Linked DNA regions of Homo sapiens. The main gene of each other region encodes a partner of the protein of the gene in region 2 in a complex. Each region holds a gene or a part of one and is shown on either strand. Other genes may lie near its edges. The genes, in order: THOC2 and THOC7.

Region 1 (8,705 bases), on a different chromosome or scaffold from region 2:
CTGGTGCCTGTTGGGGGTTGGGGAGCAAGGGGAGGGAGAGCATTAGGACACATACCTAATGCACGTGGGGCTTAAAACTTAGATGACAGGTTGATAGGTGCAGCAAACCACCATGGCAAATGTATGCCTATGTAACAAACCTGCACATTCTGCACATGTATCCCAGAACTTAAAATTAAAAAAAAATGACAGTTGTAACACATGCAGTGTAACCCAAAAAGGGCTCAAATACAGACTATATAAAGAACCCCTACAAATCAGTGAAAGAAACTCAAGCAACTCAATAACAAAAAAGGCAAAAGATATGACAGAGACCTTTCACAAAAAGAAATAAGAACTCCAGTACAGGCGTGGTGGCTCACGTCTGTAATCCCAGCACTTTGGGAGGCCAAGGCGGGCGGATCATCGGAGGTCCGGAGTTCAAGACCAGCCTGCCCAACATGGTGAAACCCTGTCTCTACTAAAAACACAAAAATTAGCCAGGTGTGGTGGCACACACCTGTAATCCCAGCTACTCAGGAGGCTGAGGCACAAGAATCGCTTGAACTCGGGAGGCAGAGGTTGCAGTGAGCCAAGATCACGCCACCACCGCACTCCAAACTAGGCGACAGAGCAAGACTCTGTCTCAAACAAACAAAAAAAAAGAAGTACTCCAAATGACCAATAACATATAAAAAGATGCTCATGGAAATATAAGCCACAGTAAAATTACATACATATTTACAAAAAATTTAAGTCTGACAATATCAAACATAGTGACAATGTGAAACAAGGTCAACTCATACACTGCTGGTGGGAGTGTACACTGAAATAGCCTGGCAATATCTAACAGAGCTAAAGTGTAACCTATAACCCAGAGATTCTACACCTAGTATATACTCCACAAAAACACATGCTTGTATACACCAAAACTGTTGTATAATAATGTTTCTATTGGCACTGTTAGTAATAGCCAAAAACTAGACGCAACAAAAATGTTTAACAAGACAGCATAAAAATAAACAAATACTGGTATACGATGGAGTATCTTGCAACTATGAAAATGAATGAACTAAAAAAAAAAGGAAAATCAATGAACTGCAAACATACAATATGGATGAATCTTAAAAGTCATAACTGTTGAACAAAAGCAGCCAGAAACAGTAGGATAAATATTCAATGATTTCATTTATATGAAGTTCAAGAAAAAAATTAAACATATTGGGTAATGACACTGCAAAGAAAATCAAGAAAGTTTCTTTGAGTTGAAGATGCAAGGTTAAAAAAAGAGAAAAATCAAGAGGAAAACCATAAATGTCAGGATAATGTTTACTACATGAGAGGTGGGAAAGGTTTGATCGGGAACAAACAGTATGTTGCCTTGACCTGGGTGTAAGTTACATGGGGGTGCATCTTACAGTGATTATTTTAAGCTCTATATTGAGGTTTCATGACTTCTCTGTATTTTCATTACATTTCACAATTTAGAAAAAAATTCTTCCATGTTGCACAAGGCTTTAAAGAGAGCCAATGAATTCATATAGAAGAGTTTCTTACTCTTTTATATCTAGTAATCCTTTTTCTAGTCAATGAAACAAATAATTTTAAGACTTACAGAACCTGCTTATATATCACATCTAAGGCTAAATAAGATGCCAGATTACAATCATCCACAGAGAGATTATCTACTTTGCAGATTATACATAACCTTGCAGCTCACCTCTGTGCCTTCTGATTATGTCAATACCCTATCATCAGGATGAGCAGGGTAAGGTTATTAAAAGTCAACAGAGTAAACTTTTGCTGGTCAACAATTCACTTCTAGGTTTCACAAATATGTTCAAAACCAAAAAATAAAAAGGCAATGGAAGCCGGGCACTGTAGCTCACACCTGTAGTCCCAGAACTCTGGGAGGCTAAGGTGGGTGGATCAGTTGAGGTCAAGAGTTTGAGACCAGCCTGGCCAACATGATGAAACCTCGTCTCCACTAAAAATACAAAAATTAGCTGGACGCAGTGGTGCGCACCTGTAATCCCAGCTACTCTACAGGCTGAGGCAGGAGAATCGCATGAACCCAGGAGGCAGAGGTTGCAGTGAGCCAAGACTGCATCACCGCACTCCAACCTGGGCAACAGAGCGAGACTCTGTCTCAGAAAAAATAAAAATAAAAAATAAGGGCAATGGAGAGCATCTACTAAATTAAATATTTAGTTTGAAAATGTCAGGCCAGGCATAGTAGCTCACGTCTGTAATCCCAGCACTTTGGGAGGCCAAGGTGGGTGAATCACTTGAGCTCAGGAGTTCGAGACCAGCCTGGTAATATCACCTGAGCTCAGGAGTTCAAGACCAGCCTCGTAACGTGGTGAAACCCTGTCTCTACCAAAAACACAAACAATTAGCAGAGCATGGTAGCACGCGCCTGTGGGCCCAGCTACTCAGGAGGCTGAGGTGGGAGGATCGCCAGAGCCCAGGAAGTTGAGACTGCAGTGAGCCAAGATCACACCAGTGAGCCATGATCGCACCACTGCACTCCAGCCTGCACTCCAGGGTGACAGAGCAAGATCCCATCTCAAAAACAAAAACAAAGAAAGAAAATGTCATTTAGCTATTAAACATTTCTCACTAAAAAAATTATTCTGAGAGTACCTTACAAATGGTAAGCTGGTTTAAGTTTGATCCCAAGTACTTTCAACTACTTCCCTGGAGAACTAGACAGGCCTTCTAATGGGTTGAGAAGAGAACAGTGGTTGGTTAAGAACACTGGTTAAAGTTGGATATGCTGGCTCATGCCTGTAATCCCAACACTTTGGGAGGCCGAAGTGGGAGGATCACTTGAGCACAGGAGTACAAGACCAGCCTAGCCAGCCTAGCCAACAAGTGAGACCCCATCTCTACAAAAAAAAAAAAAAAATAGAAAAAAAAAGTAGCCAAGTGTGGTGGCACATGCCTATAATCCCAGCTACTTGGGAGGTTGAGCTGGGAGGATCACTTGAGCCTGCAGGTCGAGGCTGCAGTGAGTGGTGATCGTAGTACCACTGCACTCCAGCCTGGGCAGCCTGGGGAACAGAGTGAGACCCTATCTCAAAAAAAAAAAAAAAAAAAAAACCACGATTAAGCTTCTAATTTCACAAAATACGTTAAACCTAACATAAGTTTATCTGGAATATAAAACAAAATCAATCTTCCTTCCACCAGGCAACACAGAAATAACATCTGCTTCAGACTAGCATCAGAAGATATAACCTAAAAATGCCATCTAGGTCTTTTGTGGAGAGGAGATATATAAGTATATCAAGGTTGCTTCAATATTTACTATGAAGTATTAAAACAATTCCCTCTTTGGGTTCTCATTTCCCTTATAGGGTCAATTCTCTTTAGAATATAATAGCAGGGGCCAGGCACCGTGGCTCACACCTATAATCCCAGCACTTTTAAGAGGCCGAGGAGGGCAGATTACTTGAGGTCAAGAGTTTGAGACTAGCCTAGCCAATATGGTGAAACCCCGTCTCTACTAAAACTACAAAAATTAGCCGGGCTTGGTGGCCAATGCCTGTAATCCCAGCTACTCAGGAAGCTGAGGCAGGAGAATCACCTGAACCCAGGAAGCGGAGGTTGTAGTGGGTCGAGATCGCACCACTGCACTCCAGCCTGGGCGACAGAGTGAGACTCTGTCTCAAAAAAAATAATAATAATAATAGCAGGAAGCACCATGTCTTTGAAAGAAGAATTTAACAGAATAAAGTAACTCATCTTTCCCTTTGTACTCGGGCTACTAAAATGCAATTTCAAATATTCCTTCATATAGAAAAAGAGAAAAAAGAAAAAGAGGAAAGGAAAAGGAAAGGATGAGAAAGAAAGAGAAATAAAATAATTGTTTAAAATTCCTCCTTATTCACTTGAGCCCAGGAGGTCAAGGCTGCAGTGAGCCAAGATCGTGCCACTGCACTCCAGCCTGGGCAACAGAGTGAGACCCTGTCTCAAAAAAAAAAAAAAAAAACTTCTCCTTATAACAATGCACTTGCTTCCTCACATTTTCAATAGTTTCATTTCTATTTAACAATCTTAATGCATGTCTTTTGCAAAAAGCCTTCCAATGGTTGCGGGGAAGAGGTTGCATCAGTGTTGCAAACTCCTACCTAGACTAATGGTACAGTCATCATTACATAACTTTAAGAAATAATTGAAATATAATTCTATATTGTCAGTCACCAGGCTACAAACATGTTCATTAGGACACAGATGACAATGTCATCATGAACTATTAGTTAGAATCTCAAAGATTTGCTCAAGTTGCATATGGAACCATTGAAAGGTTATTACAATAAGGCAATTTGTTTGCATAATAGATACTTACATTTCCCTAGTATAAAAGAGGTATTCCTTTGGCTGGGCGTAGTGGCTCATGCCTGTAATCCCAGCACTTTGGGAGGCTGAGGGGGGAGGATCACTTGAAGCCAGGAGTTTATGACCAGCCTGGGCAATATAGCAAAACCCCATCCCTACTCATACACCCGCACAAAAAAATGTTTTTAATTAGCCAGGCATGGTGGCATGCACCTGTAGCCCTAGCAATTCAGGAGGCTGAGGCAGGAAAATCCCTTGAGCCTGGTGGGGTCAAGCCTGCAGTGAGCCGTGATCGCCTGCACTCCAGCCTAGGTGACAAAGCAAGACCCTGTCTCAAAAAAAACTTAGTTAAAAATAAATTTTTTAATAAAAAAAAAACAGGTATTCCTTAGTTATAACAAGAAACTAAAAACAAACACTGAGATTTTTCCCCAACAAGTAGATGTATCTGTGCTCTTCTCCCTAAGTAATTCACTAATAGAAGTCCACCAAGGATTCTTAAAGAAACTGTTTCTGAACATTACATTTGTCTTACTATACACCTGCCTAATGGTTTTAGGTCACTAACCTAAATTATAGGGAGAGGAAAAAACAAAACTACCTCTAATAGTTGCCCACTTTAATATCGCTTAAAAATAATCAAATTTTCTGTCTCAGTCCAAATTGAAATTATTTTAATCCCTTAATAACTTTCAAATACTTGAGTTTACCATTTTTCCACTTTTTAATTTAATTTTTTAAAAATAAAAATAGAGATAGGTTCTCGCTATGTCGCCCAGAGCTCTCCTGGGCTCAGGCAATCCTTCCTCCTGCCTCAGTTGCCCAAGTAGCTGGGATTACAGGTGTGTGCCACAGTGCACACCACCTTACATGCCACCACGCCAGGCATTCATTTTTTCTACTTTTAAAATAGTTTAGTGCTATTATGGAGATGCTGTCTCAGGTCCCTGAGAATGAGGACAGAATCTACTTTCTGTCAAAAGATGTATGGAAAACTGAATAAAATGTCTGAAGTTCCTTCAAGGACTTAAAAGGTATTTTGTGAATACTTCTTAACATGAGTATACGGCTTTTCATCTTACTTGTTCCCATTTTCCAGTAAAAAGGAAACAGAGTCACAAGCTTAAACTACTTGATTATGCTCACATCTCAAATGTGGCTTTCATATATAGAAGGCTGATGTTCATTTACGCTTCACTTAATTCTTTAAAACAAGACAACAAAAAGGTTAAATGTAGTTAAATAAAGTGCTACCTCTATTATCATTTGTAGAACAGAAACATAACCCACAAAAATGAATACTGGGACAACACAGTTTTATCTTGTAGAAACATGCATTTAAAAGAAAAGGAAACAGGAAATGTTAAAAAAAAAAAAGACAACAGGAGTTGCCGCACTTACAGTAGGAAAAAAGCACAAGTATATTGACAGCACTCACCCTACCTAAACGTTAGAGCATTACAGAATAATTTTTTTTAACAAACAAAGTAGTAGCCTATACAACCTCCTGACATTGCTTCAACATTTTGTGAAGAATGTTTCTCTTCCCAGGAAAACAGACTAAGACTTATACTTAGCTTATGAATACAGGTCGAAATGGGAAATTAAATGCTAAATGAAAACTGAGACATCAAGAAAAGGTTTCAGATAAAGCTTTGGCTGAATTTGGAGCAACTTTGCGAGGAAAAAAGACTCAACCACCAAGACTAAAATTTCTTAGAATGATTATATCCCTTTACCTGGAATCCTCCAAGAAATTCAGATCAGATGGCATGTTCTGAACAACCAAATATACTTAAATAAGTTCTAGAATGTCTAAAATCATGTAGTAGCAGAAGAAGAAAAAGAACAACAATCAAAACATTTGGCAATTAAATTTTAAAACTTTATTGTAACTACCATTAATAAGGTAAGACCTAACAAAACTTTCTAATTGATACCTAAATAAGCTATTCAAACAAACAGATGATATTCAACAAACGTAAGTATTTCAAAATTAGACTAAGTATTAACATGAGGCTAGCATCTTCAGATTAAGAGCTTCGAATATCAATTCTCCATTAAGGTTGCCTGTAACAAAGAAATGCTGAGTTCACTGTGTTAATGATTTCTACCAAAAACAGAATTCTACACTGGATCTACCAGTACATGCAAGTTTATTAGCTTCATCATGGCAAGTTCTACGTCAATATAAAATAATCAAGAAACTAAAACTAATTCCAAAATTAAGTGATTAAATACATATCTTTCAGAATTTGGAAGAGTTTGCATTTAGATATAAGTATTATTGGAAATTACAATTACATTTTGGTAGTCCTCCTTTGCCCTTCTGATCCCTCTTTAAGATCACTTTAAAGGTCACTCTTTAAGAGTTCTATAATTTAGCATTAAAAACATAATTGGTATCTCTGGAAACATAATGGGATATCTAGATATGTGATGGATGGACCATTCAGATAGGCAAAATACAGTTTTACTTTTCTCTCTAATTACCTAATAAAACATTCTTCAAAGTCAAGACCTTCCATTTAATAGACAGTTGTTTTTCATGGCGTACAGTTAAGAATTTGCCCTATCTGAAAGTTATAAAATGCCCCATACATCTCTTATGTTGCTTTCAACACTAGCTGACTACCACCCCCAGAAAAGATTTATGCTGGTAAGAAGTGACAGACAAGAAATGAATTAACAACCTCATGAAATATATCACATTATTTTTAAAAAGATAATTTTCAGTCAAGTTAAAGCTTATCTGCTAATTTATCTTGTTAAAAAGGAAAAATTCACCCAAGGTATAATTTTAAATATTGGTCATATTCTAAACGCCAAATCTATAGCTTCACTAATAATGTGGTGGCACACTACCTTCATTTTTAACATTTCCAGTTGCTGTTTTATATTTCAGAAGCTGTTTTCAGACAAAGGAAAAAGGTTTTTTGTAATATATTTGCACCACCACGTATTCTGCCTAGTAATATGAAAATGCTAACACCTATCTTTAGGAAGACACAAAAACTCCAAAGACATGCTATATGCAACAAAGTTTCATAGAGGGAAAACAGGTCAAATAAACTGAAACTAAGTACTGGATGGTGATGTGTTTAACTATTTAAAATAGCTTATTATGTTACACAATTTTAAATTCTCTTCCTGTAACAGAATGCAATCATAAAACTGACTATACTGATTTGGATCTACTATAATTCAATCCACATTCCACAAGTCATGCAATAACTACATACACGTAAGTTCTAATAACAGGTTTTTTTGCTGTTGTTTTTGGTTTGTTTTTGTTTGGGTTTTTGTTTTTTTTTTTTTTTTAAAGAGTTTCGCTCTTGTTACCCATGCTGGAGTGCAACAGCGCGATCTCCGCTCACCGCAACTTCCGCCTCCCAGATTCAAGCGATTCTCCCGCCTCAGCCTCCTGAGTAGCTGGGATTACAGGCATGTGCCACCACGCTCGGCAAATTTTGTACTTTTAGTAGAGATGGGGTTTCTCCATGTTGGTCAGGCTTGTCTGGAACTCCTGACCTCAGGTGATCCACCCGCCTCGGCCTCCCAATTTGCTGGGATTACAGGCGTGAGCCACCACGCTCGGCTTCTAATAACAGTTTTTAAGCAGCTCTTCAAACATAAGAACTATGACAGATAGCATGTATTATGTAAATATACATAATGTGAACCTAAAATTCCATTTTATCTAAGTATTTCGATCTCCTACATCACTTTTTCTCAAACCATTACCAGTCAGAAGCCAAGCAGAATTTCACCTTATAGCCCTAATACCACTCATGCTAAGGTGGCAGCAATAATAGTAAAACTGTTGGGAGGCCGAGGTGGGCGGATCACCAGGTCAGGAGATGGAGACCATCCTGGATAACACGGTGAAACTCCGTGTCTAGTAAAAATACAAAAAATTAGCCGGGCGTGGTAGCACGCGCCTGTAGTCCCAGCTACTCAGGAGGCTGAGACAGGAGAATCGCTTGAACGTGGGAGGCGGAGGTTACGGTGAGCCGAGATCGCGCCACTGCACTCCAGCCTGGGCGACAGAGCGAGACTCCGTCTCAAGGGGGAAAAAAAAAAGTAAAACTGTCAAAAAACAGTAGCTGAAAGGAGGAAGCTGAGCAATCTACAAACATAACAGCCCCTAAATAAATGAGCTGGCTTTGAAAGTAAACAAAACAATGAACTGCTTTTATCAGTTTTGGGGGATTACCCTAATATCGATGAAGATGATGGTCTGGCTGGGTAACTTCCCATCTTGCCTTCCCCAAACTTGATGGCTATTTGTCAACTAGCTATCAAACTTGACAGCTATTTGTTAACTAGCACATACGAGGATTTGTAAAATGTTCATTATAGTTAAAAACGAAGATTTATCA
Region 2 (9,359 bases):
TTGAATCAAGCCAGATCAGCAGAGCTACCCACTACCCACCTAAACCACATTGTCCATTGATTTTATTTATTTATTTTTAGACAGGGTCTAGCACTGTTGACAGGCTGGAGTGCAGTGGTGCAATCATGGCTCGTTGCAACCTCAAACTCCTGGGCTCAAGTGATCCTCCTGCCTCAGCCTCCTGAGTAGCTGGGACTACCTACAGGTGTGTTCCACTCCACCTGGCTAATTTAAGAAAATTTTTAGTAGAGATGAGTAGCTGAGACTACAGGTGCACACCACCACACACGCCTGGCTAATTTGAAAAATTCTGTAGTATAGATCATGTCTTGCTGTGTTGCTTAGGATGGTCGCAAACTCCTGGGCTCACGTGATCCTCCTGCCTTAGCATCCCAAAGTGCTAAGATTGATTACAGGTGTGAGCTACCACACCCAGCCTCTACTGGCTTTAGAATGTCTTTCTAAATTGTGATTTAGCCTTCTTTTACCTAGCAAGGGATGTGCTACAAAACAGCTCTATGATCTTCAGTGCTGAAAAGAGGTTAAGGATATGACACTGGCTTTCATTTATAAAGACCTCAATGATAAACTTTTCCTCTAGTTCAAATCAGAAAAAAAAAGTGCTTTTCCTGGGCATCTAAGATTGCCTTCTCTCATGAACACTAGATCACAGAGCAGACGAGGTCCTGCCTCTCAGAATGGCCTACTGGAGAAACAGGTCACTTACAGCTTGGTTAATTAATGTACTAGACTTTATCCTCCTGCATTTTGAGGATCACCCCACTTCTGACTTCCCTTTATTTTTCCTAATCTCAATGTTCTTTTTGTCTTGTTTTCTAATCCGTTTAATTTTTATATTTTCTCATTACAGTGAACTGCCTTAAATGTTTTCTAGCATAAGGCATATAAATAACGTATTAAGGGTGACAGCAGCAATATGCATAAAATAATATGGCTAGTAGGCAGAAGGTCAACTACTTCTAGGAAAGAAAAGAGGGGATTTTTGAGGTGGGTCTTGAGGAATAAGTGGAGTGTCACCTGATAGAAAAGGCAGGAAAAGGCAACCTGTGCAGATTAAGAGAGAAGGCAAAGTCCACATCAAAGGAAAGTGGAAGACAGATTAGTAAAACAACTCTGACATTAATATTTACTGAATATTAATTATTATGTGTTGGACTCAATGCAAAGCCCTTTACAACTTTTTGTGTTTAATCCTCAAAACAATCCGCTGATGTGGATTTTATTATTATCTCCGTTCAGAGACTGAAGCTGAGACAGTCTGTAAGTGGCAGGGTAGAGATTCCTGTGGCTTTTAAGGATGTGGGGGGGCACTTGACTGCAGTCATTACTTTAGAACTCATCTTCTGTCCCTATCTCCCATCTGACAAAGCCTGTTGCTCCTTTGGACATCTCAATCTCAATAAATAGAAAAGTAGCACTAACAGGCACACAGTGAAGTCAAAAACCTGGGATCATCCTAAATCCCTTCTCCCACCATCCATTCAATACCTGAAGTCCTGACATTCTACCTCACAAATTTCCCTATTTCCCTCCCACCTGTCCTCTTTGCATTCCCTCTTGGTCACAGTCCTCATTGTCTCTCACCAGGGCCACTGCAGAAGTAGCAGACACAGGACGCATAATAGTGAAGAGCAGGAACTCGGCAGGTGGTCTCCCTGCCTTTGACCCTCTATAACTACTATCTGTGCGACCTTAGGCAAGCTAACCTGTGTCTGTTTCATCTGTAAAATGGGGATAACAATTAGAATAATACCTAACAGCACTACGTAAACGTTAGTAAGTGGCGAGGAAACTTAGCTCCTCATTTTCTCTTCCTCTAATCATTCTGCACATAACAGAGACAGTGTGTATGTGTGTGTGTGTTTTTTTTTTTTTTAATGAGACACGGTCTCACTCTGTCACCCAGACTGGAGTGCACTGGCGCGATCTTGGCTCACTGCAGCCTCAACCTCCCAGGCTCAAGTGATCCTTTCTCCTCAGACTCCCAAGTCCTGGGACTACAGGTGTGTGCCACTGTGCCAGACCAATTTTTTTGTATTTGTAGACATGGGGTCTCACTATGTTTTCCAGGCTGGTCTTGAACTTCTGAGCTCAAGAGGTCCGCCTGCCTTGGCCTCCCAAAGTGTTGGGATTACAGGCGTGAGCCACTGTGCCCGGCATGTGTGTGTGTTTTAATGCCAATCTGATTAACACCACACCAGTGTTAAAACTTTTAATGGATTCCTATTGCCCTTAGAGATCTCTGGCTCATAACTTTCTAAATTCTAGCAATACTTGTCAGCTTTGAGTTCTTCCAACATCTTGGGGTCTTTATACAAGTGGCTACCAACCCAGAACACCAGTCCAATATCTATTTATTCTTCAAAAATGGGATTAACTTCGAGGAGGCTTTCTCATTTCCATTGATTGGATAAATAATCTTTGTTACATGTTCCTACAGTTCCCAACCTTGTACTTCCTTGTGGTAATATTTGTCACTCTTAAAACTCATTAGTCAATGTTTCTTTCCCTTCAGACCAAAATTTTGGAGAGGGAAAAGTTCTTGCTTGTTAGTTCTGGGTTGTAATCCCAAAGCCTAGTCCAGGAAGGATAAATATCCACTAAATAAATGAAACTGGAATGAAGCAAAGCTGAAATTCCACATGAAGTTCCTGGGTCTTTAGTAGCCTCCCACCTCCACTACTCTTTATCAGTCTGGAAATTTGGGCCTATCACTGTTCTTCCCATGGCCAGGCCCTTTAATGTGGAGACCCTGGTGGTCTTCAACTCTTAAGAAGTGGCCTCTCCACAGGCATTTACAGTTACCGGTCACCATCTCCTGAAAAACACCCAAGAGCCCTAGATATCCCCTTCCCAGATATCAAAGGACCTCCTTCCTCCCTAACCAGATACCTTGTAGGTTCTCCCTCCAGTTGCCAATCATGCCCCTTCCCCCAAAGTGTCACCTTATTTCCGCTCTCAGTCCATAGACCATCTCCCTTAGACTGTCCACAAACCCAGCCTTTGCCCCTCTAAATTCATCCCAGCTGACAACCACCCTTCCTAACACACACACATACATCTTTTATCGTCCTGATCTACCCTAGACGGTCTCATCACTATACTGGCTCCTCCTTACCCCCGTAAATCTCCCAGGTACACTTCCTGATCACCCTCCGGATACCTCATCCCTATCTATTCCTTTTATAAATAATTCCCTGCTCCTCCTTCTCACCCACAATCCACTCGCAGTTCAAGGCCTCATTGCCATCGACTCCACTGTCTGTGAGTGCTTCCCAATATGCCCCAGGACCCCTCCTGGTGTCACGCTCTGTATCCTGACACCCCTTGTAGACGAGTCCCGAAATTCCCGCCCCGTCCCTGGAGCTCCCACTCCCTCCCAGACCTCCACAAACCTTCCAGGCCCCCAGCCCTAAGCCCGGCACCACTGTCCACCCTTCGCGGCTCCTGGGTCCTCACCGCGCCCCTAGACAAACCCGGACTCCCTCTGGTCCCACCCGCCCTTGCACCGCTTCTAGCCGTCTCGGCCACCCACGTGTGTTCCCAGCCCACCGACCACGCTCCCGGCACACCCTATAGCCCCGCGCTGCCTCCGGGAGAGCGGACGGGGAAAGCCGAGGGTCTCCGAGGGGCGCTCGGGCTCTGGCGAGAGGAGGAAGGACTCAGGGAAGCAGCCGGGGAGGCCCGGGGCTCCGGGGAGAGGTCGGGAAGGCCGAAGCGCTCTGGCGAAGAGGCCGGGGAGGCCGAGGGGTTCCCGGAAGCGGGCCGGGAGGCCAGGGGTCTCAGGGGAGGCCCAGCGGGCCGTGCAGCGGGCGCGTGTGGCGGCGAGCGGGGCCTCACCGTCAGTCACGGCTCCCATGGCGTGCGCGGCGGCGGCGGCGGCGGCGGCGGCGCAAGCTGAGGCGGCGGTTGGCGGCGGCGGAGGTCAAACTCCCACAATGCAGCCGGGTAAACAGCCATGGAGGAGGAGGCGGCGGCGCCCGCGGCCGCCTGCTCCGACGCCTGAGCCGCGCCGCGCCGCGCCGCCGCCGCCGCCGCCGCCGCCGCGGGACCCGCGCTCCCCGCGCTCCCGGTACTCCCCGGGGGCGGCCGCGGCCGGCGCGAGTTGGGGCGAGGCTTGGCGGCCGGCGGCGGCCCCGGCTGCAGCCCGGGCTCCCGCCGCCCCCCTTGCAGCCCCCGCCCGGCCCACGCCCAGAGGCCGCCCCGGAGGCCGCAGCCAGCCGCCAGGTGAGCTCGCCCGGACGCCGCCAGGGCTGCGGGGGTGCGGCGGGAGCTGCGGGCCGCCCGCAGTCGGGGTCCCGGCTTCTTCCCCGGGAAGGTGACTGCGGCCCCGCCGCCCCATCCAGGGTGACGCTGCTAGGGGTGGGCTCGTTTCCCTGGGGGGTGGGGAGGGTGACGGGGACGCCCGGATCCGGCTGAGCCCAGGAGAGGCGGGACTAGGGGTACCGAGGGGGGCGCGTCGCTGGGGGTCCCCGCGAAGTTGGCGCCCACGCGCGCTGGGGCGGGTCTCGAACGCCGGCACTTGCGCGGGGCGCGGCCGGCAATCAAAAAAGGCCCCGGGTTCCAGGTCGCGCGGTTCCGGCCCCTGCGGCCGCCCCCTTCCTTCCTGGGCTCGGCGGGTGCGGGAAAAAGGGTGAAAGAGAAACTTGGCGACCTCCCGGAGGAGTTCGCGAAGCGACCAGGAGCGTGTTGCCATCGTCCTCACCCGGCACCCAATTCCACCACAGAGTCGGGATTTCGTCGGTGATCGTGATGGGGTGCTTTTATTTTTCTCTTTGATTTTCAAAAAATGTCTATGTGACTGTCCCTATCTTAAGGGGAAGTTGAAAGTGGGGGCGGGGGTGCTCAATGAGAAACGTTGCCTTGTGTGTAGTTGTTTGGAGCACACTGCAAATTATATTGGCATCTCTTTCCAAAAGTCACTTTGATTCAACTTCGATAGCTTTCTCGTAAATGGCACGTTTAGGTGGTGAGAGGTGGATGAGGAAACAGGCACCAGTGCAGCTGATTTGACCTCCAGTGGGATAGATACGATTAGCACCAGGATCGTGTCTCATTTTGAACCCAGGTTTGTTATTTTATTCAGCCATACCGTTGTTTTCCAATTTTCCTGTCCCCCAAGTAGATCTTGCATCTTCATATCCGGGATGAAGAAGTTGTGTAGGATAAACTTGGTTGTTTCACTTTCCTTACTAAATTTAGGTACATTCTCCCTGTTTTCCCCCAGTTCTTTCAAAGAGGAGAAGTTGCAGATGCAAATGTATTAAAGTGAAGTGTGTTTAACCTCTAGCAAGAAATATGTACAATTTTAGTCATATTATGTGAGACCAGTGACTTCAATAATACCATTACAGTGCTCTCAAGAATTAGTGCTCAAGAACTTGACTTTTGTCACAAAGACAAAAATTACTTTACATGAAGATTCTGAGATGTGACTTGCTCTCCCCTAAGGTATGAAGTTTCCGACTTTGAAAAAATACTGACCTAAACGCTGGCTGTAGGTGGGCATCATCAGACCCTGTTCATTTCCTTGGTTTTAGGAGACAGGGCACTCTAAGAGAAGAATTGTTTTAAATCTTAAGTACTACAGATTGTAAACTGAAATTGTCAATTGATTGGGGTTCACAATACCAAGTTGCATTTTGGTGGGGATAGTTATTGTTTAGAAAGTAATTGTCGGCCGGGCGCGGTGGCTCACGCCTGTAATCCCAGCACTTTGGGAGGCCGAGGCGGGAGGATCACGAGGTCAAGAGATCGAGACCATCCCGGCTAAAACGGTGAAACCCCGTCTCTACTAAAAAAAAATACAAAAAATTAGCCGGGCGTAGTGGCGGGCGCCTGTAGTCCCAGCTACTTGGGAGGCTGAGGCAGGAGAATGGCGTGAACCCGGGAGGCGGAGCTTGCAGTGAGCCCAGATCCCGCCACTGCACTCCAGCCTGGGCGACAGAGCGAGACTCCATCTCAAAAAAAAAAAAAAAAAAAAAAAAAAAAAAAGAAAGTAATTGTCATGTGGTGAAAAGTTTTTTTTAAGTGTTTCTTAATCTTATCATAATACTGATTTTGAAACAGTGTCAGTGATTTAAAATAATCTGTAATATTTTCATGGGAAAGTATCACTGCCCCCTGTAACTTAAATTTTCGTGAGATACTCTCTGAGTTATTCATAAATGGAGTGCTGTTCAAACATTTCTATAAGTTAATTTGATAACCTATAATTTTGTTGGATGATGCTAGAAATTTTCTGGAGTAATAAGACCAAGAGGAATTTGAAAGACTTTAAAGTTTGAGCTGTACCTGAAAATAAACATTCCTGAAAGTTATTTTATTTTTTTTTGAGACAGGACCTTCCTCTGTTGCCTAGGCTGGAGTGCAGTGGCACGATCATCAGGGCTCACTGCAGCCTGGAACTCCTGGGCTCAAGTGATCCTCCCATCTCAGCCTACCAACTAGTTGGGACTACCGGCATGTTCCATGATGCCTGGCTAAGTTTTTTATTTTTATTTTTGTAGAGACATGATCTCACTATGTTGCCCAGGCTGGTCTCAAACTGCTGGGCTCAAGCGATCCTCCCGCCTCAGCCTCCCAAAGTGCTGGGATTATGGGTTTGAGCCACTGTGTCCAGCCTGAAAGTTCTTGACTCAAGTGGTGGGAAACACATAATTTGAGCCTTTATGAACTCTAAAATCTATTTTGTCAGCTACATGATTTTACTTGCAATTGCATTGACACAGATCTATTCATTGAACATTTAAGAATTGTCTTTTCATCATATCGTATATCTCATATATATGAGAGAACATCTTTTAGTAAACTTTACAAGTGGTCTTCTTTTTACATATTAACATGTTGATGAATGTTAAAGTAGCAAAGACTCAAGCCCTTACCATACTAATGTTTCTTCTTTTCAAGACAGATCTTTATGGGCAGAAACACAGAAATGGAAGTAGCAGATTTTAAGAAAACTGATTCAGACTTTGAACTTGTATGACCTTATATTTATTGATTTATTTGAGTCATAAGATTTCTGGGTTTTTTTTTTTTTGAGAATATGAAAGACTAGTTAAGAAAATTTGTGTGTTTATTTGATATTTGCTTTCTGAAAATATAAAAAATTATGAGAGAGCTAGCTATATATGGTCTTTATTCTGGGTCTGTGAAATAATGTAAGGAATTTTGTACTATGCTTTTAGAGCAAGAGTTATCCTGGGGGTCTGTGACCCTCCAAGGGTTGGTTTCAAGGGATTCCTGAACTCCCTGTAGTTGTGACCAGAACTTTTTGTGTATGTGTATTTTTCTGGAAGAGGGTCTGTAGTTGTTTTAGAAAAGAGATCCAGGACTTAAAAAAATTAGAGACACATCTTTTTATTGAATAAAATGGAAGTTAGAATTCTTTTCTTTTCTTTCTTCTTTTTTCCTTTTTCTTTTGAAACAGGGTCTCACTTTGTTGCCCAGTCTGGAATGCAATTGCATGAAACTGGCTCACTGCATCCTTGACCTCCTGGGCTCAAGTGATCCTCCTGCCACAGCCTCCCAGAGTGCTGGGATTACAGTCATGAGCCATCACAGAATGACCATTCTAAAGAGAAAAAAACATTTTTGAAAAGTAGATCTGTGTGCTCGTTACTTGCCTTTTAAAGTTATCTTCAGGCTGGGCACAGTGGCTTATGCCTGTAATCCCAGCACTTTGAGAGGCCAAGGCGGGTGGATCATTTGAGGTAGGCCGAGGCGGGTGGATCATTTGAGGTCAGAAATTCAAGAGCAGCCTGGCCAACATGGTGAAACCCCATCTCTACCAAAAATACAAAAAAAATTATCTAGGCGTGGTGGTGTGGCCTGTAATCCCAGCTACTCAGGAGGCTGAGGCAGGAGAATCACTTGAACCCAGGAGGCTGAGGTTGCAGTGAGCCGAGATCACTACACTCTAGCCTGGGCAACAGAGTAAGACACTGAAATAAATAAATAAATAACAAACAAATAAATAAATAAAGTTGTCTTCAGACTTAGAGGTGTAAAAGCACTTCCATTTTATTCCCACAACAAAGCATTGCCTATCAGTTGATAAGCCAAGCTGGTCTGACGTGCTAGTCCTGCATGTACTGTGGCTGTGTTTTTAAAAAATTATATCTAAAAATTCAGACCAGATCGTTTGATGGTAGATAAGCAAAGATTTGATCTTGACACCAGCCGTTGGAGTAAATGGGTCTTTCAGCTCCACTCTCTTCTCTCCAGAAAATTTGAAATTTGACTCAAAGGGAATCATTGTAAGAAAATGTGTTTGTGCCTTGGCAGGACAGTAGAACATGATGGGAAAAACACAGTTTGAGTCAAAATAGACTTAAAATTCAAATTTGGTTTCCTTTATTCACTGTAGCTACTTACCCTGCTTGACTCTTCAGTTACTCATCTGGATATGGCTAACTAGTAGAGTTGTTGGGAGGCTAGCTAGAAGTTTCCCGTATAAAAGTCTTAGCTCCTCTTTGGCCCGCAAGAAGGACTTACAAGCCAGGTTTGGGGAACCATTAATAAACATCTGAGGAAACATGTATATTCATGGTATAGGATAATAAGTACATTATTTCCAAATTGGTGTGATGAAGATATTAACACTTAAAACATTGTTTTTTAAGAAAAAGATTTTCAAAAATGAGTTAGGATTGAGTGGTCCCCAAATATAGATATTTAGAGGAAAGTGGAAAATGATGGTTTATTTGGCAGAGGGGAGGACATGGATGCTGCTGGGCAGGAAGAAATGATAGCCACCCACCAGCATTATATTTCTCTCTGTGGGCAAGATTCCATTTAACATTTTCTCTTCACTTATAATCTGAATTAAAAAACTAAAATACTGCACATGTACTTTATAGTCCATCACCCCTAAAAGTGCTTCAGCACTCCTTTCGTTTTGAGACCTTCACAGGTAACCCAGGGACTTCATGGGTGGAAGTTACACTTATAACTTTAGTTGTCTAATTCTGCTGTCTTTAAAATGCCTTCACAGTTGGGTACCTGTGTTGATTTTTGTCAATAGGAAAGGGTCTGGCAGGACTGAATCATATTTTACTTTAAATGCTGAAGTAAGAGAGGGCATTATGAGTCAAAAGAAAGTGTGAGATACGTAAATAAAATACTGTATAATGCTTATGGCCATAAAAATAAACTTGCTTCTACTATTTCTATAGTCTTAACCTTTCCTGTCATTTATTCGTGGTGATCATTTATGCTTTCTGCCCTTGGGTTGGGAAATGGTTATGAACACAGCCTTTAGGCTTTGAATATGGCCTTGATTCTCATTTCCTGAGCTCTCTGGTTGTGTTCAACTTGGTCCAGTCTCCTTCTTT

The links.
Region 1: THOC7 (region 2) and THOC2 share a complex: the UniProt entries of both Homo sapiens proteins name them as parts of the transcription/export (TREX) complex.

Annotation. Positions count from the first base shown.
Region 1 is NC_000023.11:123,722,555-123,731,259, forward strand, and holds part of THOC2 (THO complex subunit 2), read right to left. Parts: intron 1-8,705. UniProt on the Homo sapiens protein: Component of the THO subcomplex of the TREX complex which is thought to couple mRNA transcription, processing and nuclear export, and which specifically associates with spliced mRNA and not with unspliced pre-mRNA.
Region 2 is NC_000003.12:63,859,911-63,869,269, forward strand, and holds the start of THOC7 (THO complex subunit 7), read right to left. Parts: upstream 3,896-9,359; 5' UTR 3,881-3,895; coding exon 3,862-3,880; exon of another isoform or gene 3,594-3,861; intron 3,286-3,593; exon of another isoform or gene 3,234-3,285; intron 1,910-3,233; exon of another isoform or gene 1,589-1,909; intron 1,087-1,588; exon of another isoform or gene 735-1,086; intron 1-734. UniProt on the Homo sapiens protein: Component of the THO subcomplex of the TREX complex which is thought to couple mRNA transcription, processing and nuclear export, and which specifically associates with spliced mRNA and not with unspliced pre-mRNA.